Linked DNA regions of Homo sapiens. The protein of the gene in region 1 purifies or fractionates together with the protein of each later gene. This does not show direct contact. Each region holds a gene or a part of one and is shown in the gene's direction. Other genes may lie near its edges.

The links.
Region 2: the proteins of RSBN1 (region 1) and EEPD1 purify together in Homo sapiens (affinity purification with mass spectrometry; 2 studies listed by BioGRID and IntAct, with this or other methods). This does not show direct contact.
Region 3: the proteins of RSBN1 (region 1) and DHX37 purify together in Homo sapiens (affinity purification with mass spectrometry; one large-scale study listed by BioGRID and IntAct). This does not show direct contact.
Region 4: the proteins of RSBN1 (region 1) and SETD1A purify together in Homo sapiens (affinity purification with mass spectrometry; 2 studies listed by BioGRID and IntAct, with this or other methods). This does not show direct contact.
Region 5: the proteins of RSBN1 (region 1) and ZNF317 purify together in Homo sapiens (affinity purification with mass spectrometry; 2 studies listed by BioGRID and IntAct, with this or other methods). This does not show direct contact.
Region 6: the proteins of RSBN1 (region 1) and ZNF512 purify together in Homo sapiens (affinity purification with mass spectrometry; 2 studies listed by BioGRID and IntAct, with this or other methods). This does not show direct contact.
Region 7: the proteins of RSBN1 (region 1) and CEBPZ purify together in Homo sapiens (affinity purification with mass spectrometry; 2 studies listed by BioGRID and IntAct, with this or other methods). This does not show direct contact.

Annotation. Positions count from the first base shown.
Region 1 is NC_000001.11:113,795,477-113,798,976, reverse strand, and holds part of RSBN1 (lysine-specific demethylase 9), read left to right. Parts: intron 1-940; coding exon 941-1,614; intron 1,615-2,673; coding exon of another isoform or gene 2,674-2,676; exon of another isoform or gene 2,677-3,500. UniProt on the Homo sapiens protein: Histone demethylase that specifically demethylates dimethylated 'Lys-20' of histone H4 (H4K20me2), thereby modulating chromosome architecture.
Region 2 is NC_000007.14:36,278,754-36,282,253, forward strand, and holds part of EEPD1 (endonuclease/exonuclease/phosphatase family domain-containing protein 1), read left to right. Parts: intron 1-2,361; coding exon 2,362-2,472; intron 2,473-3,500.
Region 3 is NC_000012.12:124,979,132-124,982,631, reverse strand, and holds part of DHX37 (probable ATP-dependent RNA helicase DHX37), read left to right. Parts: intron 1-8; coding exon 9-121; intron 122-1,793; coding exon 1,794-2,142; intron 2,143-3,500. UniProt on the Homo sapiens protein: ATP-binding RNA helicase that plays a role in maturation of the small ribosomal subunit in ribosome biogenesis. Required for the release of the U3 snoRNP from pre-ribosomal particles.
Region 4 is NC_000016.10:30,960,754-30,964,253, forward strand, and holds part of SETD1A (histone-lysine N-methyltransferase SETD1A), read left to right. Parts: intron 1-513; coding exon 514-784; intron 785-2,679; coding exon 2,680-2,801; intron 2,802-3,340; coding exon 3,341-3,500. UniProt on the Homo sapiens protein: Histone methyltransferase that catalyzes methyl group transfer from S-adenosyl-L-methionine to the epsilon-amino group of 'Lys-4' of histone H3 (H3K4) via a non-processive mechanism.
Region 5 is NC_000019.10:9,157,397-9,160,654, forward strand, and holds part of ZNF317 (zinc finger protein 317), read left to right. Parts: intron 1-437; exon of another isoform or gene 438-583; coding exon 584-679; intron 680-1,429; coding exon 1,430-1,512; intron 1,513-2,717; coding exon 2,718-3,258. UniProt on the Homo sapiens protein: May function as a transcription factor. May play an important role in erythroid maturation and lymphoid proliferation.
Region 6 is NC_000002.12:27,593,042-27,596,541, forward strand, and holds part of ZNF512 (zinc finger protein 512), read left to right. Parts: intron 1-3,500. UniProt on the Homo sapiens protein: May be involved in transcriptional regulation.
Region 7 is NC_000002.12:37,207,597-37,211,096, reverse strand, and holds part of CEBPZ (CCAAT/enhancer-binding protein zeta), read left to right. Parts: exon of another isoform or gene 1-14; coding exon 15-98; exon of another isoform or gene 99-3,500. UniProt on the Homo sapiens protein: Stimulates transcription from the HSP70 promoter.

The DNA of each region.
Region 1 (3,500 bases):
AAGCTTAAGGGAGCCCATAGCAGGAGTAGCTATCCAGATTGGGTGGGGAAGAAAAGGCTTTCTGAAAGAATGAGTCTAAGCATTTTGTAACCTTCTAATTTTTATGTCAGTTTTTTCATCTATAATATACTTTACAATGGCTGAGTAGTGTTTTATAATATGTAACTACCAGAGTTTAATCAGTCCCCTGTTATTAGACATTTAGGAGCATTCCCTGTTGTGTCGTTTTAAATAATACTGTAATGGATATCTTTATATAATCTTCAATTATTTTCTTAGATAACTTTTACTTGGAAGTGGAATTTCTGGGTCTGAGGATTAGAAATATTTTTTAAGACTTTTAACATGTATCATGAAATTGCCCTTCAGAAAGTTGTACCAGTTTATACTTCCAGCAGTAGTAGTTGAGAATGACCAGAAACCGCAGACTTTGCCAACTTGATAGGAAAAAATGATATCTCATGGCTTACTTTGCCTTTGTTGATTTACCTGTATGTATCATAGTAATTCATAGGCTGACAGCAAAATATGCCTAGCTTAAATTTAAATTTTATGATGATAACTGAACAAAAGAATCTATGTTGTTACATAGATTTCAGAATCATCATATTTAGCTATCGTATAATGTTTCATACCATTGCTATATCATGATTTATTTAACCATTCTCTGTTTTTTGGATGTGTGAATTATTTCTGATTTTTCTCCATTATCAGTAATATACTGCTTTGAAAAATGGATACCTTCAATTTTATTCTTTTCTTCAATCCAGAATATTATTATATTTAAGATCTCTGTCTCATTTGTTTTCTAAACACGTAAGTTGTAATAGCAAATTCAGAGAAATTGAGGATAGGCTATTTAATGAGATCAAGTACCTTAAGAAGCTTGTATGTTGACACTAGTCCTAGCAACTAACTTCTTTTTAATTATTGTGGCCAGAAACACCAGATGAAAATGGTAAAACCCAGAGAGCCGATGATTTTGTCTTGAAGAAAATAAAGAAGAAAAAGAAAAAGAAACACCGAGAAGACATGCGAGGAAGACGCCTTAAAATGTACAATAAGGAAGTACAAACCGTCTGTGCTGGCCTGACCCGCATCAGTAAAGAAATTCTCACCCAAGGACAAATAAATAGCACTTCAGGACTTAATAAGGAGTCCTTCAGGTATCTGAAAGATGAACAGCTGTGCCGATTAAATTTGGGTATGCAAGAATATCGGGTACCCCAGGGAGTACAAACACCTTTTATGACTCACCAGGAACATTCTATTCGTAGAAATTTCTTAAAAACAGGTACTAAATTTAGCAACTTTATTCATGAGGAACACCAGTCCAATGGTGGTGCTCTTGTCCTTCATGCTTACATGGATGAACTCTCATTTTTGTCTCCAATGGAGATGGAGAGATTTTCTGAGGAGTTTCTTGCTTTGACATTCAGTGAAAATGAGAAAAATGCTGCTTACTATGCTTTAGCAATAGTGCATGGAGCGGCTGCTTATCTCCCAGACTTCTTGGACTACTTTGCTTTTAATTTCCCCAACACTCCAGTGAAAATGGAAATTCTGGGCAAGAAAGATATTGAAACAACCACCATTTCAAATTTTCACACTCAGGTAAGATAAAAATTGTTGTTAAAAATTAGTAAATACGATTCTAAACAGAATTAACCTCTTTCTGTCGCACAGCACATACCAGCACATTTTTGATAACAAATTTATGGTAATAAAGGTGCTTCAAATTGTTTGTCTCTTCCTCTAATTGAAAAATCTTAATTACTGAGTTCGGGTGGGGCTTCTTCTTTACTGGAGGGAATGCTTTATACATGTTATACATCATTACAAATCTTTATGGAAAACTAGCTTGAAAACTTACCTGGTCTTTCACAAATCGGGTAATGTTAGTATGGAGGATGTGATTGAGATCTGTTAGTCTCAGGATAACTTTAGTTAAGATTTGCTTTTATATCATAATAAAACACGTGAGGGCATGGGCCTGTTTATATGCCAGGTTTTTGGAGTTTTTATATCTCTTTCAGTAACTTGTTGGCAGTCCATCCCAGAAATATACCCCATTTATGTGACTTGGAAGTGTCATTAGGAAGACCGCCATAGCCTCTGCTCCTTCTGCCTATACATTGTTGTAGGTGAAGACATTTTTTGAAGCCTTGCATGGGCAGCTAGGCTTAAGTCAGCAGGGAAACGTCTGCTTCTTAACCAGTGGTTTTAACCAAACATTTTTTTCAGTGAAGTTATTTTAGGGAATAAGAAGTTAATAATGTGTCCTAGTTTTTTTCTTACTTGCTTTTCTCGTAAGAATTGAATATAAATGGTCAGCTATAAGTTTCTGCAGTATATATTATAAATTCAACTTTAGTGGAGACTTTCACTTTTTAAACTTTTATGATTATATGTTCTGTTTTTTCAGGTTGTCTAGTAATTTGCTGCCATTCTTTTCCCTTAATATATATATATTTTTTTAGGTAAATAGATTGTTGCCGTAATAAGACTCTCAGCTGCCTGAATTATAGTGGTTTCAAGCCACTTAGATTTATTTGAAACCTCCTCTAACTTGAATCTTTTTAGTGAGTCTTACCATCTTTGCCTCCAATGAGGGGAGTATCCAGTTTAGATTTATGAGCTTCAGAATTTCTCTAATTGAAGTTCTCTCTGCAGTAGAGAGAGCAGGAGCAGCCAATGTGGAGAGGTCGCAAGATGGGGCTGCCCAAGATGTTGGAACACCATGTGCAATAAAGGGCTTCGTCTTGGATTTTGGCCTTATTACCACAACCAGGTACCGAAGTGCTGACTTTTGTAGTAGATTTTCTTTTTTCATTTTCATTTTTTTTTTAAGTTTTGCCCTTTGAAGGTCAAGGAATCCTATTTTTATAAATATTGCAGATGAGACTGAAAACATTTCTCCTAATATAGTCCATAATCCCCATAAGTTCCCTATTTAACAAGGAAAGATATTGCTGAGAGCAGAATCAACATGCTCTATCATTTTTTTAGTTTAGAAAAATGCAGCAAATTTTCTCTTTTGATAGACCAACAAGCATTTCTGAGAAATAAGCCAGAAATTTGGGGGAAAACTGTCCCAGTTTTGTAAGGGTGTCTTTTTAACATTCATATTAGTTAAAGTGGATCAAATTTGTATGTCAACAGACAGTATCCAGTCTAAATAGTTAATAAAAGAAAATATCTTGAAATATTCCCTGCTGATTTTTGTCCTCCAATTAATTTTTTAAAATGGAGCTGAAATTTAAATGACTGTACCAACAACTTACCTTGATACTTACTTTGAGATTTAAAAAATAACCACTTTTTAAGAACATTTCAGATTATGATTAAATTAGATATTAAACGCTTCAACCACATAAGAATATTGAGGACTGTTGAATGAGTCCTGTGCTCTGGTGGTCCTGGAACTTAATTTTATTTATGAATTTTCAGTCATTAGAGAAGAGTATGGTGTGGATATGGGAGGTTGGATTAGCCGACTA
Region 2 (3,500 bases), on another chromosome or scaffold:
CGATAAATTCTGGCTGCATCTTCCAAAGTGTTTTATTTCCCATCTGAGGATGGCTTCCAGCCAGGAGCATCTGGCCAGGGGGACTTATCCAGGGTAAAACCCCACCCTCTCCGCCTTCCCCACTCCCTCGCCCCTGTCAGCAGTGACTCTCTCCACAGCCACTCTGCTCTGGGCTGTGTTGAAAGTAGAACCTATAAAAGTCATGGTTGAGCAAATTCCAGAGAGAATGCTTCCCAGACAAACTCAGCAGCAGAGAACATATCTGTATGCAAAGAGTCAGGTTACAATGGAGGCAACTACTTGGATAATAGCCTAAGGAGAAATTCCCACCACCCCGACTCCCCCGCATCCCCGACCCCCTTCCCTGCCCCTGCTTTGTTTGTCATGCTGTCATGCACAGATTTGAAGACTGCAGTCTTGCCTTGAGTTTTCTGCTTCACCAGCAGATGTTTCAGAGCATCACTGGGTGCTGTGCTCTGTGCCAGGTAGGGGTTTATAAAGGAGGCTCAGGTACAGTCCCTGCCCTGTGGAGTCCACTGCTGGAGAAAGATAGATGCTTACATGACTAACTGTAAAAGCAGCGTCACTCCTAGAATAGCCCATTTCTAAAGTAGACCTCCCAGCACTCTCCCTCCCCTTGCCTGGTTTCATCTTCCCCACAGCGCTTGTCCCTCTAGAAATGACTAGCTCAGTACTCAGTAATGAAGTACTGGTGCTTCATCTTCCCTCTTACAAATAAAGCAATGTGAGGGGAAAGACCAGACCTTTAGACCCTGGCCTCTCCCAACCATTGTATGTGGGCTGCCCAGGGGGCATGAGAGTGGCTTTCTGCAGCAGAGGCGTTGGGAGGCTCTGCTGAGAGGGTGGCTGCTCACACACCGCCAGGATCTGGGGCAGAGGCTGAGGGAGGACCTGGGCGGCCACAGCAGCTCTCAAACCCAAGCGTGCATCAGAATCTTCCAGTGGGTTTGTTCAGGCACAGATTGCTGGGCCCACTTCAGAGCTGCTGATCCAGTAGGTCTAGGATTTCTAGCACGTTCTCAGGTGATTCTGTGGCTACTGGTCCCTAGACCACACTTTGAGGACCGCAGAGAGGTGCATCAGCATGGCCATGACAGTGAACTTAGTGAATAGCTGCAGGGTGGGTCCAGTGACGGACTTCTTAGAAGCTATGCCAGTGACCCCCGTGAGAGAAGACAGGACTCTGAAACAGGCTCCAGCAGTGGGGCTGGAGAACAGAAAGGAAGCACCCAAGACACATGCGACAGTGGAATCAGTGCGCTGGTGGGAGGCGAGGAAGGAGTTCGAGCAGCGGGAAGGATGGAAGTGCTTTGGACCAAGATGGGCACTGGGTGGAGGAAGGAATAATGTGTTCCCTTTGGGACCTGCTGCTGTGAGGGGCTAAGGAGACCTCCAGGTGGAGATGCTAAGGAGGCAGTGGGAAATGCTTTTAAAACTCAGGAGAGCAGCTGGCGACGGGTACAGATGCTGGGGTCTTCTGGATAGGGGTGTAAGCTGCCTCAGTGGGGCTGAATGAGAGTCCTTAAGCGGAGAGAGTGGTGATGTGCTTGGAAGCCAAGAGGCTCTCACTCGTAGGGGTGGTTAGAGAAATAAACAAGTGGAGTGCTCCAAGGCTTGTGAAGGACAAGGGGGCATGACCCCAAGAGAAGGGGTTGTGTTTGAGGCATGAGTTAGAGGAGCTGGTCTCCATATTTTGAAGTGGATAGTTGTTCCACTCCTCATCCTACTGTGTGCAATTTTATTTTGCCTCAGTGACAGTCACTTTACAGCCATATTGGTGCAACATGCATTAGCAAAAGAAGTGCATGCCGCGTGCACGTGTGTGGGTGCAGCAGCAGCTCTCCGCAGCAAGAGGTAAACAAGACAAGCACTACGGTGGTTCAAGTTGAAGCTGGAGGTCATTTTTTGCCCCTGTAAGCTGAGCCCTGAAGAAGAAAGTCACCATGTATCCATCTTGTTACCTTTTTGGATTTGACGCTGATCCAGATCCTCCTGGGACCTTCAATCCGCTGCTTTTACAAGGATGAAAAGGATTCTGATGACTTTTTTTGAACTGTTTGGGCAGGAATGCTACAGAGAGAATCAATTTCTGTGAACTGAGAGTCCCCAGGTGATAATTTGGTGTTTCACACACAGGCAGTTTTCTTTTTAATGTGTGGTGCTTGTTTAGTCATCTGGCTCTTGCAAACCCTAGTGTTTGAAAAACAGGGATGTAGTTCAGCAGTGTCTGAATAAGGCTGATGACTCAGAATCATGCAGTGCCTGGCTTCTCAGGCCGCCGCCAGCCGGGACTGCTTTAGGCGCGAACCCACGCTTCTGACCTGTGCTCTGTCTTTGCAGTTCTGCACGGAGCTAAACCAGCCGACCCTGCCCAACATCCGCAAGTGGAAGGGGCCCCGGGGATGCTGGAAGGCTGTTGTTGCTGAGAAGCCCTCGAGTCAGCTCCAGAAGGTACCCTCGTCTGCAAAGCCTGGCCTTTCCCTTCATTTAATTTATACATACTTTTCCCCTAATCAAGGGCATTTAAAAATTTCCTTTGCCAATATCCCCGGTTCAATTTTGTATTTCTGCCCAATTTTTAAATCCTTGCCATTCATTTCCAAATGCCCTGGTTTTCGGTTCACGTTTAGATTGGGAATGGACTCCTGCCAAGAAGGAAATGAGAGCTTAGGGTGTTGGGAGGAGAGGAGGGGAGAAAGGCAACAAATGGGTATTTCTGTCCTTTGTCCTTCTAATCCCTTCGCCACAGTTCTGTCTTCTGCCAAGTTTGTGCAGAGCTCATTACTCGTTGACTGAAAATTTCAGATTCACCTTAGTTCACACATGAAGTATTTGCTTCTAGTGGTAGAAATTATGCACATAATTTCAACATAGAAATGTTCTATTGAAATGTTCAGCAGATTTTGGTTTTGAATTTTCTTTCATCAGTATCACCCATATGAGCAGGTAAGGGTAAATCTCTGTAAATACACGTTTTCCCTCATATTATTATTCAAGGCCAGATTTATTCACCTTGCAATGCTTAACATCAATGGAGTTTTAGATTTTTAAACAGACTCCTGATAATAACCAGGAGTTGAAAATGTATTATTACATAATTTTCCTATAAATGCAGATTTTTAAATCCCTAGTATACCTAACATGCTTACAAACACATGTGATTTATACTTAATATGATTATGTTTATAATGTAGGCTCTTAAATCATAAATGTATACTGGATTAAAAGTGGCCATTTTTTGACAGTAAGCCCCTACTCTCTTTTTAGCTACTACTTAAAGAGGTACATGTAAATCTTCTGTCTCTGGGTTTTATGTTTGGGGGTGTAAATGGCTCCTGCAGCTGACAGTGAGTCAGCACACATTCAGAGAAGGCTGGAGATAAAGCTGAATTTGAATGCATCTAGTTCAGGGTTCTCCCTTCCAGTCCACGTGGAAATAATAAGAATAATACCACCTTCCTTTTTTGATCGCACTTTAC
Region 3 (3,500 bases), on another chromosome or scaffold:
TTTCCCAGCGAGCAGAGATGCTACAGAAGCTGAGTGAAGTCCAGGCTTCCGAAGCTGAGATGAGACTCTTTTATACCACTTCCAAGCTAGGCACTGGGAACCGCATGTATCACACCAAAGAGTGAGTTGGCCAGTCCTTTGCTAACCCTGCCCTCCCTCCAGGGCCCCCTAGGGAGGGCGCACAGGTTATGGGGTCCTCTGGGGGTGGAACATTTGAGAAAATACCTTTATGGTGGCCTGAGTGGCTGAAAATTCATTGTCATCCTAAATGCCTCTAGTGGGTAAAGGCCACAGATGCTGCTGAACCTTCTGCGACACACAGGACAGCAAAGTTTCTCGCTCCAGTGATGTCGGTGTTTTCCTGTGGTGTAGAGTCCCTTGTTACAGCTCTTCCAGCTTTTGTGCAGCTGATTAGGCCAGAAATTGCCATTAGGTGGTCAAGGGCTGGATTTGGCCCATCAGCGGGTTTGGTTTGGTTTGTGTCGTGTTTTTTTTTGTTTTTTTTTTTTGAGACAGAGTCTTGCTTTGTCACCCAGGCTGGAGTGCAATGGCGTGATCTCAGCTTACCGCAACCTCCACCTCCCAGGTTCAAGCGATTCTCCTGCCTCAGCCTCCCAAGTAGCTGGGATTACAGGCATGCACCACCAAGCCCGGCTAATTTTGTATTTTTAGTAGAGACGGGGTTTCTCCATGTTGGTCAGGCTGGTCTCGAACTCCCAACCTTGGGTGATCTGCCCGCCTCGGCCTCCCAAAGTGCTGGGATTACAGGCGTGAGCCACCGCGCCCGACTGGTTTGTGTCGTTTTTTAAGGCATGAGTGCTGTTTGCCAATATGTTAGCTTCCTGGCGCTGCCATAACAAATTACTGCAAACAGCGGTGGCTTAGAACAACCAAGCCAGAAGGGTGCCGTGGCTCATACCTGTAATCCTAGCACTTTGGGAGGCCGAGGCGGGTGGATCACCTGAGGTCAGGAGTTTGAGACTAGCATGGCCAACATGGTGAAACCCTGTCTCCACTAAAAATACAAAAATTAGCTGGGCATGGTGGCTCATGCCTGTGGTCTCAGCTACTCTGGCGGCTGAGGTGGGAGGATCACCTGAGCCTGGGAGGTTGAAGCTACAGTGAGCCGTGATTGCACCACTGCACTCCGTCCTGGGCGACAAGGTGAATTCATGTTCCCACCTAGTCTCGACTAGTTGGACGATCCGGCCACACCAGCAGTGTCCCCACCAAGCTGCTGACCCTTAAATGGCCTGTGTGCCCCTCCCACCCAGTCCCACCCCACTCTGTGGTCTCCTCAGCCTGTGCTGCTCATTTACATGAGGCCTGACTGGTGCCTGTGAGCACTGTCAGTTAGTGACTGTTTATCGAGTGCAGAGACTGTCCCAGGCTCTCTGCTAGGCCCTGGGGATAGAGCAGTGCACAGAAATAAAGTCCTTTCTCTTAAGGAGCTTCCCAGTGTCATGGCGGGAGATGTAATCGTGGGAAGTCATCAGGCGAGTGCATCTGTGTCCCACGCTGGGAAGCACTGAGCAGAAAATGAAGCAGGGAAGAGCGAGGTGGAGGGAGAAGGGTGAGATGTGGGGTCTGTGTGTGGTCAGGGAGTCTCCCTGACAGCTAGTGCTTAAGCAGAGGCTTAAGTGGAGTGAGAGGAGGTATCTGCAGGAAGGGCATTTCAGGGAGTGGAACAGCAGGTGCAAAGTCCCTGAGGCAGAAAGGGGTATGGCCTTGGAGTCCTGACCTCTGGGATTGAGGTGGGGCCTCTGTGCCTGAAGTCTCTGCTATCTCAACAGGAAGGCTGACGAGGTGGTAGCCCCGGGCCAGGAGAAGATCAGTAGCCTCAGCGGTGCCCACCGGAAGCGTCGCCGCTGGCCCTCAGCTGAGGAGGAGGAGGAGGAGGAGGAGGAGTCGGAATCGGAGCTGGAGGAGGAGTCGGAGCTGGACGAGGACCCAGCTGCTGAGCCGGCTGAGGCTGGTGTGGGGACCACCGTGGCACCTCTGCCGCCAGCTCCAGCACCCAGCAGTCAGCCCGTGCCGGCTGGGATGACTGTTCCTCCTCCTCCAGCTGCAGCCCCACCACTGCCCAGGGCCCTGGCTAAGCCCGCCGTCTTCATCCCCGTGAACCGCTCCCCGGAAATGCAGGTTCGCCACCCCGTGTTTGTGATTAAGAATCTAGGTTAGCGGGCAAGGGGCGCACAGAGGGCGTCCTGGTGAAGTGGGGCAAGGGCATCCCTTCTCTGTGCCTCCATGTCCCCATCTGGGAAAGGGGAGAGTGACTGCGCCTCCCTTGAGGCTGTGGCAGGGATTGGTGCGCGAGGAGGATCACAGTGCAGGGCGGGTGTCTGGCGGCACGCCTGGCAGGCTCGGGGCCCTGGAGGTCGGCGGCAGTAGCTTCATCGCCACTGCCCTCTGACCAGCGGGCCTGGCCTGGGCTGCCCCGATCCAGACAAGAGTTTGGGCTGTGAATCAGTTGACCCGAAATCAAGTGCTGATTCCCCTGCTCTCCAGCTCACTTCCCGCGCATCTGTAAAATGGGAATATTCCGGCTACTGAAGGGGCTCCCCCTCTCTGTGCCTGTTTCCTTCCTGGTACAATGAGTGTCTCACTGGGTTGTGATGACAATGAAAGGATTTGGGGCATGGAAAGCCCACAGCCCACGTAGGAACTCTGGATCCCTAGAGGAGTAATGTTGGCCGTTGAATGGAATTGGGATCCTGCTTCTAAGTACATTTTTCTGCTTTTATAAGTCTTCATCAGGGTAAGCTGACCGCTCTAGCAAATGACCCCAAAGTGCCAGTGGCTTCACACCACAAACGTTTGCTTCTAGGTGATGTCATCACCCAGTGCCATCTGGTGGCAAGGAGGGTGTGGGGTTCTGCTCCGCGCGGTCACTCAGGGGCTTGGCCTCCTCCATCCCGTGTCCCTGCCATCCCTTGGGACTTCAGTTCCTGCTTTTCTTTGTGAATTTTTCCCTATTCGTATCCTGTCCATATTCCTAAGCAATACATACCGTAGGTTTGCCTGTATTTAAAAGTGGCATCATGTCCTTTACGTTATTCCAGTTTGCTTTTTTGTTACTCAGCATTATATCTTGGGATACATCCATGTTGATGCAGGCAGCTGAGGCTCATTTACTTTTTCCCCACTGCTATCGAGTATTCACGGTGTGAATATAGCGCAGGATGAGTATTCTGTTGCTGGATAGTTGGTTGTTTTAGCTTTTTGCTGTTATCTTCACTGCTGTTTTTGTTGTTTGTTCGTTTGAAACAGGGTCTCACTCTGTCACCCAGGCTAAAGTGCAGAGGTTTGATCTCAGCTGACTGCAACCTCCGCCTCCGAGGCTCAAGTGACCCTCCTGCCTCACCCTCCCAAAGAGCCTGGGACTGTGGGCACACGCTACTACGCTTGGCTAACTTTGTATTTTTTTTGTAGAGACGGGGTTTTGCCATGTTGCCCAGGCTGGTCTTGAACTCCCAAGCTCAGGCAACTCCCAAACTCAG
Region 4 (3,500 bases), on another chromosome or scaffold:
GAGACGGAGTCTCGCTGTGTTGCCCAGGCTGGAGTGCAGTGGTGTGATCTCGGCTTAGTGCAACCTCTGCCTGCCAGGTTCAAGTGATTCTCCTGCCTCACCCTCCTGAGTAGCTGGGATTACAGGTGCCCACCATCACATCCAGCTAAATTTTTTTTTTTGTATTTTTAGTAGAGACAGGGTTTTATCATGTTGGACAGGCTGGTCTTGAACTCCTGACTTCTGGTGATCCGTCCACCTCATCCTCCCAAAGTGTTGGGATTATAAGTGTGAGCTGCCACACCCGGCCTAGTTTGCACATTTCTGTTCTTAATTCTTGCTGTTATTCTGTGGTGAGAAGAATTCAGGGAAAAGGGGTCAGGTCTGATGGATCCCTTATTTTGGGCCCCTTCCCTTGCCCCTCACTTTCCCGGATCTCTCTCTTGACTTCATGGAGCTTGCTAAAGTTTCCCGAAGGACAAAGGAACAGTGGTCAGTGTTGAGACCCCATACCAACTCCTGTTCTTTCCCCAGCTGGACGAGTTCTATATTGGACAGATTCCACTGAAGGAAGTGACTTTTGCAAGGCTGAATGACAACGTGCGGGAGACCTTCCTGAAGGATATGTGCCGTAAGTACGGTGAGGTGGAAGAGGTAGAGATCCTCCTTCACCCCCGTACGCGCAAGCACCTGGGCCTGGCCCGTGTGCTCTTCACCAGCACTCGGGGCGCCAAGGAAACGGTCAAAAACCTCCACCTTACCTCCGTCATGGGCAACATCATCCATGCCCAGCTTGACATCAAAGGTGAGGACTCCTCTGCCTGCCACTCAGGCTTGGCCTCCAGCGGAGGTTGTACATGCAAATGCCTGTCAGGGTCAGGCAGGCGCCCAGGGTCATGATCTGAAACTGCTGGGGCCAGTTGTGTTTCTGAAATCAGATCAGATTTTAGAGTGGAATTATGGTACATGGATTTTTGTGTGTGTGGTGTCTCCAGCAAGGTCGGGCAATAGGCCATAATCAAGCACATAACTATCTGTAAAAAAAAAAAAAAATCATATGAAGGGTTGTACTAGGTAAGATGAATAGATTGTAGTAAATCAGCCCAGGTCAGGTTGGTTGCTTGGTTGGTTTTTGAGACAGGATCCTGCTCTGTCACCTAGGCTGGAGAGCAGTGGCGTGATCTTTCCTCACTGCAGCCTCCAGCTCCTGGGCTCAGCCACCCCAGCCTCCTGAGTAGCTGGGATTATGGGCATGCACCACCACACCTGGCCAAAGTTTTTTTGATTATTTGCAGAGATGAAGTCTCACTACACTGCCCAGCCTGTTTTTAATTTTTTTTTTTTTTTTTTGAGATGGAATCTCAATCTGTCGCCCAGGCTGGAGTGCAGTGGCACGATCTTGGCTCACTGCAACCTCCACCTCCCAGGTTCAAGTGATTCTTCTGCCTCAGCCTCTTGAGTAGCTAGGATTACATTTATGCGCCACTACGCCCGGCTAATTTTTGTATTTTTAGTAGAGATAGGGTTTCACCCTGTTAGCCAGGCTGGTCTTGAACTCCTGACCTCAAGTGATCTGCCTGCCTCGGCCTCCCAAAGTACTGGTATTACAGGCATGAGCCACCATGCCTGGCCTCTTTTTAATCTTTCTATATGCTATTCTATAACCCATATAGGTTTTGGTGCCAGATTCTCAGAAATACTGGATTTTCTGGGTTTTTAGGTTTGGAAATTTGAGATAGAGAGTAAAGGAGCTGTGAACACAAGCGAGGTGGTCTGGGCTTCTGTGTTGAGTGATGGGGAGCAGTGGGGTCTGTGGCGAGCTGCAGATTGCAGTATTGTCTGGAGGAGGCAGCCATTAGTAGGCACTGGCCAGTTTGCAAGTGGAAATGAGGTTTAACATTCTTGAATTTGGTTTGTAAAAGAAAGCCAGGGCCGGGCATGCGGTGGCTCACGCCTGTAATCCCAAGACTCTGAGAGGCCAAGGTGGGCAGATCACCTGAGGACAGGAGCTCGAGACCAGCCTGGTCAACATGGTGAAACCCCATTTCTATTAAAAATAACAAAAATCCGGACGTGGTGGTTCATGCTTATAATCCCAGCTACTCGAGAGGCTGAGGCATGAGAATCACTTGAACCTGGGAGGTGGAGATTACATCGTGCCACTGCACTCAAGCCAGAAATTTGGGTTTTTGTGTGAAATCTCATGGTTTTTAAATACCATGTTTCTTTCCTCACAAGGTGTTTCTGAGGTGTTCACTCCACAGCTCCTGCAGGCTCCGTTAGTCCCCCGGTTGCTGTTCTGCATGCTTTAGTTTACAGGATAAAGAGCATGGGGTGATCGAGCCTCTGGGTTTGAATTCCAATTTTTCCAATGACCAATTCTGTGACTTTGTGTAGGTCGCTTTTAAGCCTCTAGAACAGAGGTACTGATGCTTCCCTTCTGGTGATCCAACATGGTAAAATAAGTAGAAGTGTTTTTGATAAATCGTGAAGTGTCATAAAATATGTTGTTTGTGGTAGTTTAGAGGTAGAGATAAGGTAGAAGGTCCCAAAGGTAGAGTTATGGTAGGAGAACTGAAATCCTGAAACCCAGATTCCAAGAAATTGTAGGAAACTTGAGGCCTGAGAAAGCAGGAATACCAGATCAGGAAGGAGTTAGTATCTCCATCTGACAATTGGTTCCCATTTCCCTCCCTCCAGGACAACAACGAATGAAATACTATGAACTAATTGTCAATGGCTCCTACACCCCTCAGACTGTGCCCACTGGGGGCAAGGCCCTGAGTGAGAAGTTCCAAGGCTCGGGTGCAGCCACTGAGACGGTGAGAAGTTTGTGGCTACCACAGCCCCTAGCCATGTGGGCATGGTGTCCGGGTGCCCGGAGCAGGAGCAGTCTTCGGGAGGTTCCGGGCTTTCCCGTTAAACAAAGAAGAGCCAAGCAAAGCTGCTGAGATGCTTTCAAAAGACAGGGAACTAGGGGCCAGGCACAGTGGCTCACGCCTGTAATCCCAGCACTTTGGGAGGCCGAGGCGGGTGGATCATGAGGTCAGGTGATTGAAACCATCCTGACTAACACGGTGAAACCCCATCTCTACTAAAACTGCAAAAAATTAGCCAGGCATGGTGGTGGGCGCCTGTAGTCCTAGCTACTTGGGAGGCTGAGGCAGGAGAATGGCATGAACCCGGGAGGCGGAGCTTGCAGTGAGCCGAGATCACGCCACTGGACTCCAGCCTGGGCAATAGAGCGAGACTCCGTCTCAAAAAAAAAAAAAGGGAACTAGGATTCCTGGTTTGGGAAAGGGCAGGTCTCAAGTGGTGTTTGAGCCCATTCCTCTCTCCTTGCCCTGCTCTGTCGCTCTAGGCCGAATCCCGCCGCCGCTCTTCCTCTGACACAGCTGCCTACCCAGCAGGCACCACTGCGGTGGGCACTCCTGGCAACGGCACCCCCTGCTCCCAGGACACAAGCTTCTCCAGCAGCCGACAAGATACCCCATCTTCCTTTGGCCAGTTCACACCTCAGT
Region 5 (3,258 bases), on another chromosome or scaffold:
AAGGCCAGTGCCATTTCTCCACTTATTCATCCATGAATTAGATGTTTTTGTTTGAGTATGTTCTGTGACCCAGGAACTATGCAGCGGTTCAGAACGCAGCTGTGAACAAGCAGCCCCAGCACCCATGCTTAATGGGGCCTCTCCTGGGTATCGAGGCCCATCTATTGCAGGGACCATGGTGGTTCTCCGGTGTGTGTCTGAGCTTGGCATGGGCTTCTGAAATACGAAATCCCCATTCTTTTGGAGGGTCAGTGTGTGGGTACTTGTGATCTTATTTCCTATTTCTTTTTTTTTTTTTTTTTTTTTATTTTTGGTGATGAAGGGTTCTCACTATGTTGCCCAGACTGATCTTGAACTCCTGGCTACAGGCACGAGCCACCATGCTTTGCCTGTGGTTTTGTTTTCTATCAGTCAAAAACTTTTACTGTGTTCCTTAGAAATTTTGGCACCACCATTTTGCTGCTCCTAAGTCAGACTTGTCCACCCTCAGAACACTGAAGACCCAAGTGTTGAGCCCAGGCTACTGGAAGGGGTTGTCCTCTGCATGGCCCTCCCTCAACCTGTGTCTTTCCCGTGAGTGTAGGGTATCAGGTCGGCAAACCCAGCCTCATCTCACACTTGGAGCAGGAGGAGGAGCCGAGGACAGAGGAGAGGGGCGCTCACCAGGGCGCTTGTGCAGGTGAGCGAGCCCCAGGCAAAGAGCGGTGCTGTGACTCTACCTCTATTCAGTGACTGGGGTGGAGGGAGGTAGGTTAGGGAGTGTCACCCAGGGAAATTGAGAGATGCTCCTTCCCTCTTTTTGCCCATCCATTCTCTGACAAATCTTTTGGTCCACACACTCCTTCATCTTTGACTTTCACATTCCCATTATTGGGCTCTTTGTCCCATTCTTTCATATTTGATGTTTCTGATCATCCGCTTTCTGTCATTATCAACATCATCTGAATTGCCTTAAATTTCTTTTTTCTTTTTTTTTTTTTTTTTTTTTTTTTTTTGACGGAGTCTCACTCTGTTGCCAGGCTGGAGTGCAGTGGCATGATCTCGGCTCACTGCAACCTCTGCCTCCCAAGTAGCTGGGACTACAGGCATGATGCCGCCATGCCTACCTAATTTTAGTATTATTAGTAGACATGGGTTTCACCATGTTGTCCAGGCTGGTCTCGAACACCTGACCTCAGGTGATCCACCCACCTCGGCCTCCCAGAGTGCTGGGATTACAGGCGTGAGCCACTGCACCAGGCCTGAATTGACTTAAATTTCTACCCCTGGCATTGCCAAATATCTCACATGACCAGATTTTTTAACAATTGCTTTTGCACCACTTTTCCTTACATAGCCTTAGGATCTGCCAAGAAATCCACCTGTCATTGTCACCATCATCCCACCATTTTCCTTTTCCAACAATTAATACTTTTCCAATTTGTTTCAGATTGGGAGACTCCATCTAAAACCAAGTGGTCACTTCTTATGGAAGATATTTTTGGGAAGGAAACGCCCAGTGGTGTGACGATGGTAAGATTTCCGTGGGATAATTCTGGATCTTCCTTCCACGTCTGAGGAGACTGGGGCAGCCTAGGTTAGAAAAGCAGTTCAACACCAGGGCAAGCAGCTTCCCTCAGAGGAGACTGTGTTTCAGAGACACTGGGTATTACCAAGATGGAGACAACCCTAAAGCTAACCTCAAGCTACTTTACCTAGAGTGTCTCTGAGTGAAGATTTTTATAGCTGTGTCTCAGATATTGAGTGTTGGGGCTCAATGCAGTTTTTGTTTTATTTTATATTTATGCTGTACACTTACTTATCAATTTAGTTTTGGTGGTGTTTATTTTTTGGGGGGCAGACAGTCTTGCTCTTGTTGCCCAGTGCAGTGGGCAACATCTTGGCTCACTGCAACCTCTGCCTCCCAGGCTCAAGCCATCCTCCCACCTCAGCCTCCTGAGCAGCTGGGACTATAGGCGTGTGCCACCACACTTGGCTGATTTTTCTATTTTTTGCAGAGACAGGATTTCACCATGTTGCCCAGGCTGGTCTTGAACTCCTGGAGATCCATCAGCCTCGGTCTCCCAAAGTGCTGGGATTATAGGCTTGAGCCACCATGCCCAGCCTCAATTCAGTGGTTTTTGTTTGTTTGTTTTTGTTGTTGTTTTTGTTTTTTGTTTTTTTTTTTGAGGCACAGTCTTGCTCTTGTCACCCAGGCTGGAGTGCAATGGCACGATCTCAGCTCACTGCAGCCTCCACCTTTCAGGCTCAAGTGATTCTCCTGTCCCACCCTCCCGAGTAGCTGGGATTACAGGTGTGCACCACCATGCCCAGCTAATTTTTGTATTTTTAGTAGAGACAGCGTTTCACCATGTTAGCCAGGCTGGTCTCGAACTCCTGACCTCAGGTGGTCCACCCGCCTTGGCCTTCCAGAGTGCTGGGATGACAGGCGTGAGCCACCTTGCCCAGCCTCAATTCAGTTTTAAGCAGTGAAGAAATGCTATATGCAAAAAGCTTTGAAAAAGTAACACATGTGGAGCCTTGTGGCCTGGCATTCACCTATTGTCCTTGATGGAGCTCAAATGGGGCAGGGACAGCACGTTTGCACGGCAGATGGTTACAGCTCTAGTCATAGTAATGTGCTTCTATCTGTTCATAGCAGTGTATGTGGGGATGACGCTTAGGGTTGCAATGAATATGAGAATTGCCTTTGTCAGCACTTACGTCTTAACCAACAGGAAAGAGCCGGTCTTGGAGAGAAGTCCACTGAATACGCTCACTTGTTCGAAGTCTTTGGCATGGACCCTCATCTCACTCAGCCAATGGGAAGGCACGCTGGCAAGAGGCCCTATCACCGCCGCGACTATGGGGTAGCGTTCAAGGGCAGGCCGCACCTCACTCAGCACATGAGCATGTACGACGGGAGAAAAATGCATGAATGTCATCAGTGCCAAAAAGCCTTCACCACGAGCGCGTCCCTCACACGGCACAGGAGAATCCACACCGGGGAGAAGCCTTACGAGTGCAGCGACTGCGGGAAAGCCTTCAACGACCCTTCAGCCCTTAGGAGCCACGCAAGAACTCACCTCAAAGAGAAGCCCTTTGACTGCAGTCAGTGTGGAAATGCATTCCGGACCCTCTCGGCCCTGAAAATCCACATGCGAGTTCACACTGGCGAGAGGCCTTACAAGTGTGATCAGTGCGGGAAGGCTTACGGCCGGAGCTGCCACCTCATCGCACACAAGAGAACGCACACCGGAGAGAGGCCCTACGAGTGTC
Region 6 (3,500 bases), on another chromosome or scaffold:
CCCTTCCTGGCTGAATAGTTTCGTTAAGATGTGTCTTGGTTGGGTACCGTGGCTCATGCCTGTAATCCCAGCAGTTTGGGAGGCTGAGGTAGGAAGATTGCTTGAGCCCAGGAGTTTGATACCAGCCTGGACAACAAAGTGAGACCCTGTCTCTACACACACACACACACACACACACACACACACACACACACACACACACACAAAAGAATGAGCTGGGTACCGTGGCACACACTTGTGGTCTCAGCTACTCAGGAGGCTGAGGTGGGAGGATTGTTTAAGCCTGGGAGGTGGAGGCTGTGCTTGAGCCACTACACTCCAGCCTGAGTGACAGAGTGAGACCTTGTCTCAAAAAAAAAAAAAAAAAAAGTGCTTTGGACCAGCCTGGGCAACATAGCAAGACCCTGTCTCTATGAAAAAACACAAAAATTTAGTGGGTATGATGGTGTGCACCTGTGGTTCCAGCTACTCGGGTATGGTGAGGTGAGAGGATCACTTGAGCCAGAGAGGTCCAAGCTGCAGTGAGCCATGTGCCACTGCACTCTGGCCTGGAGAACAGAACAAGACTGTGTTTCAAAACAAAACAAAAAGATGTATCTTGGTATGTTTTTCTTTGAGTTATCCTATTTGGTGTTTGTTGAGCTCCTTGAATCTGTAAATTTATATCTGACCAAACGTGGGGGATTTTCCACCTTTTTTTTTTCAAATGTATTTTTCTGCCTTAGTATCTTTCTTTCTTTCTTTTTTTTTTTTTCCATTTAACCCTGAGTTGACACAGCACATGTTTCAGAGAGCACAGGGTTGGGGGTAAGGTTATAGATCAACAGCATCCCAAGGCAGAAGAATTTTTCTTAGTACAGAACAAAATGGAGTCTCCTATGTCTACTTCTTTCTACACAGACACAGTAACAATCTGATCTCTCTTTCTTTTCTCCACATTTCCCCCTTTTCTTTTCGACAAAACCGCCATCATCATCATGGCCCATTCTCAATGGTCACTGTCTCTTCGGAGCTGTTGGGTACACCTGCAGAAAGGCTGTCACTTCACACTTGGAAGATTGCACAGCGGCCAGTCAGAGGTGCTCCTCACTTCCCAGACAGGGTGGCGGCCGGGCAGAGGCGCTCCTCACATCCCAGATGGGGCGGCCAGGCAGAGGCACTCCTCACCTCCCGGACAGGGCGGCCGGGCAGAGGCGCTCCTCACATCCCAGACGGGGTGGTGGCCGGGCAGAGGCACTCCTCAGTTCGCAGACGGGGTGGCAGCCGGGCAGAGGCGCTCCTCACCTCCTAAACGGGGTGGCGGCCGGGCGGAGGCGCTCCTCACCTCCCAGAAGGGGTGGCGGCCGGGCAGAGACGCTCCTCACCTCCCAGACGGGGTGGCGGCTGGGCAGAGACGCTCCTCACCTCCCAGACGGGGTGGCGGCCGGGCAGAGGTGCTCCTCACCTCCCAGACAGGGCGGCCGGGCAGAGGCGCTCCTCACTTCCCAGACAGGGCGGCCGGGCAGAGGCGCTGGTCACATCCCAGATGATGGGCGGCCAGGCAGAGACGCTCCTCACTTCCTAGACGGGGTGGCGGCCGGGCAGAGGCGCTCCTCACTTCCCAGACGGGGCGGCCGGGCAGAGGGTCTCCTCCCATCCCAGATGATGGGCAGCCAGGCAGAGACGCTCCTCACTTCCTAGATGGGGTGGCGGCCGGGCAGAGGCTGTAGTCTTAGCACTTTGGGAGGCCAAGGCAGGCGGCTGGGAGGTGGAGGTTGTAGCGAGCCGAGATCACGCCACTGCACTCCAGCCTGGGCAACATTGAGCATTGAGTGAGCAAGACTCCGTCTGCAATCCCAGCACCTCGGGAGGCGGAGGCGAGCAGATCACTCGAGGTCAGGAGCTGGAGACCAGCCTGGTCAACACGGCGAAACCCCGTCTCCACCAAAAATACAAAAACCAGTCAGGCGTGGCGGCGCGTGCCTGCAATCCCAGGCATTGGGCAGGCCCAGGCAGGAGAATCAGGGGAGCCCGAGGTAGGGAGGTTGTAGCTAGGTGAGATCACGGCAGTATGGTCCAGCCTTGGCAACAGAGGGAGACCGAAGAAGGGAGAGGGAGGAGAGCGGGGAGAGGGAGAGCGAGAGCTGCATTAGTATCTTTCGCCTCTCCCTCTGGGATTACAACTACACTTAAGTTAAAACGTTTGGTATTAGGGTTTTGTTGAATGTTTTTCAATCTTTTTTTCTCTTTGTTCTTCAGACTGGTTTTTTTTCTTTTCTTTTCTTTTTTTTTTTTTTTGAGATGGAGTCTCGCACTGTCGCCCAGGCTGGAGTGCAGTGGTGCGATCTCTGCTCACTGCAGCGGCGCGATCTCTGCTCATTGCAGCCTCCGCCTCCCAGGTTCAAGCGATTCTCCTGCCTCAGCCTGCCGAGTAGCTGAGATTACAGGCACCCACCACCAGGCCTGGCTAATTCTTTTGTATTTTTAGTAGAGACGGGGTTTCACTATGCTGATCAGGCTGGTCTCGAACTCCTGACCTTGTGATCCGCCTGCCTCGGCCTCCCAAAGTGCTGGATTACAGGCGTGAGCCACTGTGCCCGGTGGAGACTGGGTCATTTCTATTGAACGGTCTTCAAGTTCACAGACTCTTTCCTCTGTCATCTCCATTCTATTACTGAACCTATCTGATGAGTTTTTATTTCAGATGTTGTATTTTTCAGTTCTAAGATTTCATTTGGTTCTTTTTTATGGTTTCTTTTTCTGCTGATGATTCCCACCTTTTCCTTCATTTCTTGTGTGTTTTCTTTATAAGAAAGTATTTCTTTTTTGTTGACAGTATTTGATAGTCCCAAAATCTGGATCACCTTGTGGCTGGCATGTTTTGGTCATTTGTTCCTTTGAAAATTGCTCACATTTTCCTGGTTCTTTATGTGTTGCATAATTTTGGAATTTATCCTCATCATTGTGAATACTTTTTGTGTAGATTTTGGGTCCTATTATAATTCTTCTGGGGAATGTTGCCGTTTCTGTTTTAGCAGGCCACCCTGCTTCAGGTTCAGGCCAAAACTTCTGTCTTGCTTTTGGAGGCATTTGTTAAAATCTCGGTTCTGTTCTTTATGTCTTTGCTATGTTGATTTGAGCTGTCCCAAACATGAATAGCTTAGGGGCTGGTCTGAGACTTCTGCAGGTGTTTCCAATCTTATTTCAGTTCTCCAAGCTTTTGCTGCTTTGGTTTGGGTCACATTAGAGTTCAAATCTCATTTTGGTTTTCAAAGTCTTTGCTAGGCTGGTACGTATGGGTATATGCCACACATTCATGGCTAAGGTTAAGTTGTGACTTATTTGGATTCATACATTGAATTAAGAGATTCTTTTTTTTGCCTGTTTTCTCTCTAGCATTCCTCCCACCCCCAGTCCCCCAACTCTGGTCCACAGGGACCTTTTTTCCTGATTTACCTGGTAAGAAAGAAGGGAGTTTCTAGAATTAAAGCTGCCTATGCTGCTCTGCAAGTGGGGTTCAT
Region 7 (3,500 bases), on another chromosome or scaffold:
TTTTCGTGTAACAGAACTTGAAGTCCACTCCAAAGTCAGTACTAAGAAAAGCAAGAGAAAAGGTACAGATGATTTTGACTTTGCTGGCTCATTTCAAGGTAAGAAAATACATTTAATATCTTTTAAAAGCAGTGTCCATGTGAAAGGTGTCATTATCATTTTGGGAAATGAACTCTCCTAAATTTGATTAATAAAATTCAGGGGTGGGGGGGGTTCTTTTTAAGAAAGATGTTAAGTGGAAATTATTTTCCACATTTTGAATTGTTTCTCGCATTCAGATATCTCTGGATCATCTTTTCATTCACTTTTTAAAAATTTGTTATCATTATTTCAGTTGTTTTTGGGGAACAGGTAGGGTGTTTGGTTACATAGGTAAGTTCTTTAGTAGTGATTTCTGAGATTTTGGTGCACCCATCACTCAAGCAGTACACTGCACCCAATGTGTACTCTTATCCCCCACTGCCTCCCACTCTTCCCCCCAAGTCCCCAGAGTCCATTATATCATTCTTAAGCCTTTGCATCCTCATTGCTTAGCTCCCATTTATAACTGAGAACATAGAATGTTTGGTTTTCCATTCCTGAATTACTTCGCTTAGAATAATGGTCTCCAGCTGTATTCAGGTTGCTGCGAATGCCATTATTTCTCTCCTTTTTATGGATGAGTAGCATTCCATGGTATATGTATACCACATTTTCTTTATCCACTCATTAGTTGATGGGCATTTAGGTTGGTTCCATATTTTTGCAATTGCAGATTGTGCTACTATAAATCTGTGTGTTTGTCTTTTTTATATAATGACTTATTTTCCTCTGGGTAGTACCCAGTGGTGGGATTGCTAGATCAAATGATAGTTCTACTTTCAGTTCTTTAAGGACTCTCCATACTGTTTACCATAGTGGTTGTACTAGTTTACATTCCCACCAGCAATGTAGAAGTGTTCCCTTATTACCACATCCATGCCAACATCTGAAATTTTTTTTATTTTTAAATTACGGCCATTCTTGCAGGAGTAAGGTGGTATTGCACTGTGGCTTTGATTTGCATTTCCCTGATAATCAGGGATGTTGAGCATTTCTTCATATGTTTCTTGACCATTTGTATATCTTTTGAGAATTGTCTGTTCATATCCTTAACACACTTTTTGATGGGATTGTTTTTTTCTTGCTGACTTTTTTGAGTTCCTTATAGATTCTGGACATTAGTCCTTTCTCAGATGCATAGTTTACGAAGATTTTCTCCCACTCTATGGGTTGTCTATTTACTCTGCTGATTATTTATTTTGCTATGCAGACGCTTTTTAGCTTAATTAAGTCCCATCTATTTGTTTTTGTTGCATTTGCATTTAGGTTCTTGGTCATGAACTCTACTTAAGCCAATGTCTAGAAGAGTTTTTCCAATGTTATATTCTAGAATTTTTACAGTTTCAGGTCTTATCTTTAAGTCTTCGATCCATCTTGAGTTTTCTGCATAAGGTGAGAAATGAGGATCCAGTTTAATTCTCCTACATGTGGCTTGCCAGTTATCCCAGCACCAATGGTTCAATAGGGTGTCCTTTCCCCACTTTGTTTTTGTTTACTTTGTCAAAGATCAGATGGTTGTAAGTATTTGGCTTTATTTCTGGGTTCTCTATTCTGTTCCATTGGTCTACGTGCCTGTTTTTGTACAAGTACCATGCTATTTTGGTAACAATAGCCTAGTAGTATAGTTTGAAGTCAGGTAATGAGATGCCTCTAGATTTGTTCTTTTTGTTTAGTCTTGCTTGGCTATGCAGGCTCTTATTTTGTTCCATATGAATTTCAGGATTTTTTTTCCTAGTTCTGTGAAGAATGATGATGGCATTTTGATGGGAATTACATTAAATTTATAGATTGCTTTTGGCAGTATGGTCATTTTCACAATATCGATTCTACCCATCCATGAACATGGGATGCGTTTCCATTTGTGTGTGTCTGTGGTTTCTTTCAGCAGTGTTTTGTAGTTTTCCTTTTAGAGATCTTTCACCTCCTTGATTAGGTGTATTCCTAAGTATTATTATTTTTTTTTTTTTTGGCAGGTGTTGTAAGGGGGGTAGAGTAATTGATTTGATTCTCAGCTTGGTTGCTGTTGGTGTATAGCAATGCTACTGGTTTGCGCACATTGATTTTGTATCCTGAAACTTTGCTGGATTTATTTATCAGATCTAGGATCTTTTTGGATGAGTCTTTAGGGTTTTCTAGGTATGCTATCATATCATCGGTGAATAGTGACAGTTTGACTTCCTCTTTACTGATTTGAATGCCCTTTCTTTCTCTTGTCCAGTTGCACTGGCTAGGATTTCCAGTACTATGTTGAATAGAAGTGGTGAAAGTGGGCATCCTTGTCTTGTTCCAGTTCTCAGGGGGAATGCTTTCAACTTTTCCCTGTTCAGTATAATGTTGGCTATGGGTTTATCATAGATGGCTTTCATTACTTTTAAGGTACGTCCCTTGTATGCCAGTTTTGCTGAGGGTTTAAATCATAAAGGATGCTTGATTTTGTCAAATGCTTTTTCTGCGTCTATTGAGATGATCATATGATTTTTGTTTTTAATTGTTTATGTGGTATATCATATTTATTGACTTGCGTATGTTAAACCAGCCCTATATCCCTGGCAAGAAACCCACTTGATCATGGTGTATTATCTTTTTGATATGCTGTTGGAGTTGGTTAGCTAGTATTTTGTTGAGGGTTTTTGCATCTGTGTGCATGAGGAATATTGGTCTCTAGTTTTCTTTTGTTATGTCATTTCCTGATTTTGGAATTAGGGCGATATTGGCTTCATTGAATGATTTAGGGAGGATTCCCTCTTTCCCTATCTTTTGGAATAGTTTCAGTAGGATTGGTACCAGTTCTTTGAATGTCTGATAGAATTCAGCTGTGAATCCATCTGGTCCTGGACTTTGTTTTGTTGGCAGTTTTTTTATTACTGTTTCAGTCGTGCTACTTGTTATTGGTCTGTTCAGAGTTTCCATTTCTTTCTGGTTTAATCTAGAAGGGTTGTATATTTCCAGGAATTTATCCATTTTTCTCTAGGTTTTCTAGTTTTTGTGCATAAAGGTGTTCATAGTAGCCTTGAATGATCTTTTGTATTTCTGTGGTATCGGTTGTAGTATCTCCCATTTCGTCTCTAATTGAGCTTATTCAGATCTTCTCTCTTCTTTTTTTGGTTAATCTTGCTAATGGTCTACCGATTTTCTTTATTTTTCCACAGAACCAGCTTTTTGTTTCATTTATCTTTTGTAGTGTTTGCTTCAGTTTTATTTAGTTCTGCTCTGATATTTGTTATTTCTTTTCTTCTGCTGGGTTTGAGTTTGATTTGTTCTTGTTTCTCTAGTTCCTTGAGGTGTGAGCTTAGATTGTCTGTTTATGCTCTTTCAGACTTTTTGATGTAGACATTTAATGCTGTGAACTTACTAAATGTAGTGCCGCTTTTGCTGTATCCCAGAGGTTTTGATGGGTTGTGTCACTATTGTTCAGTTCA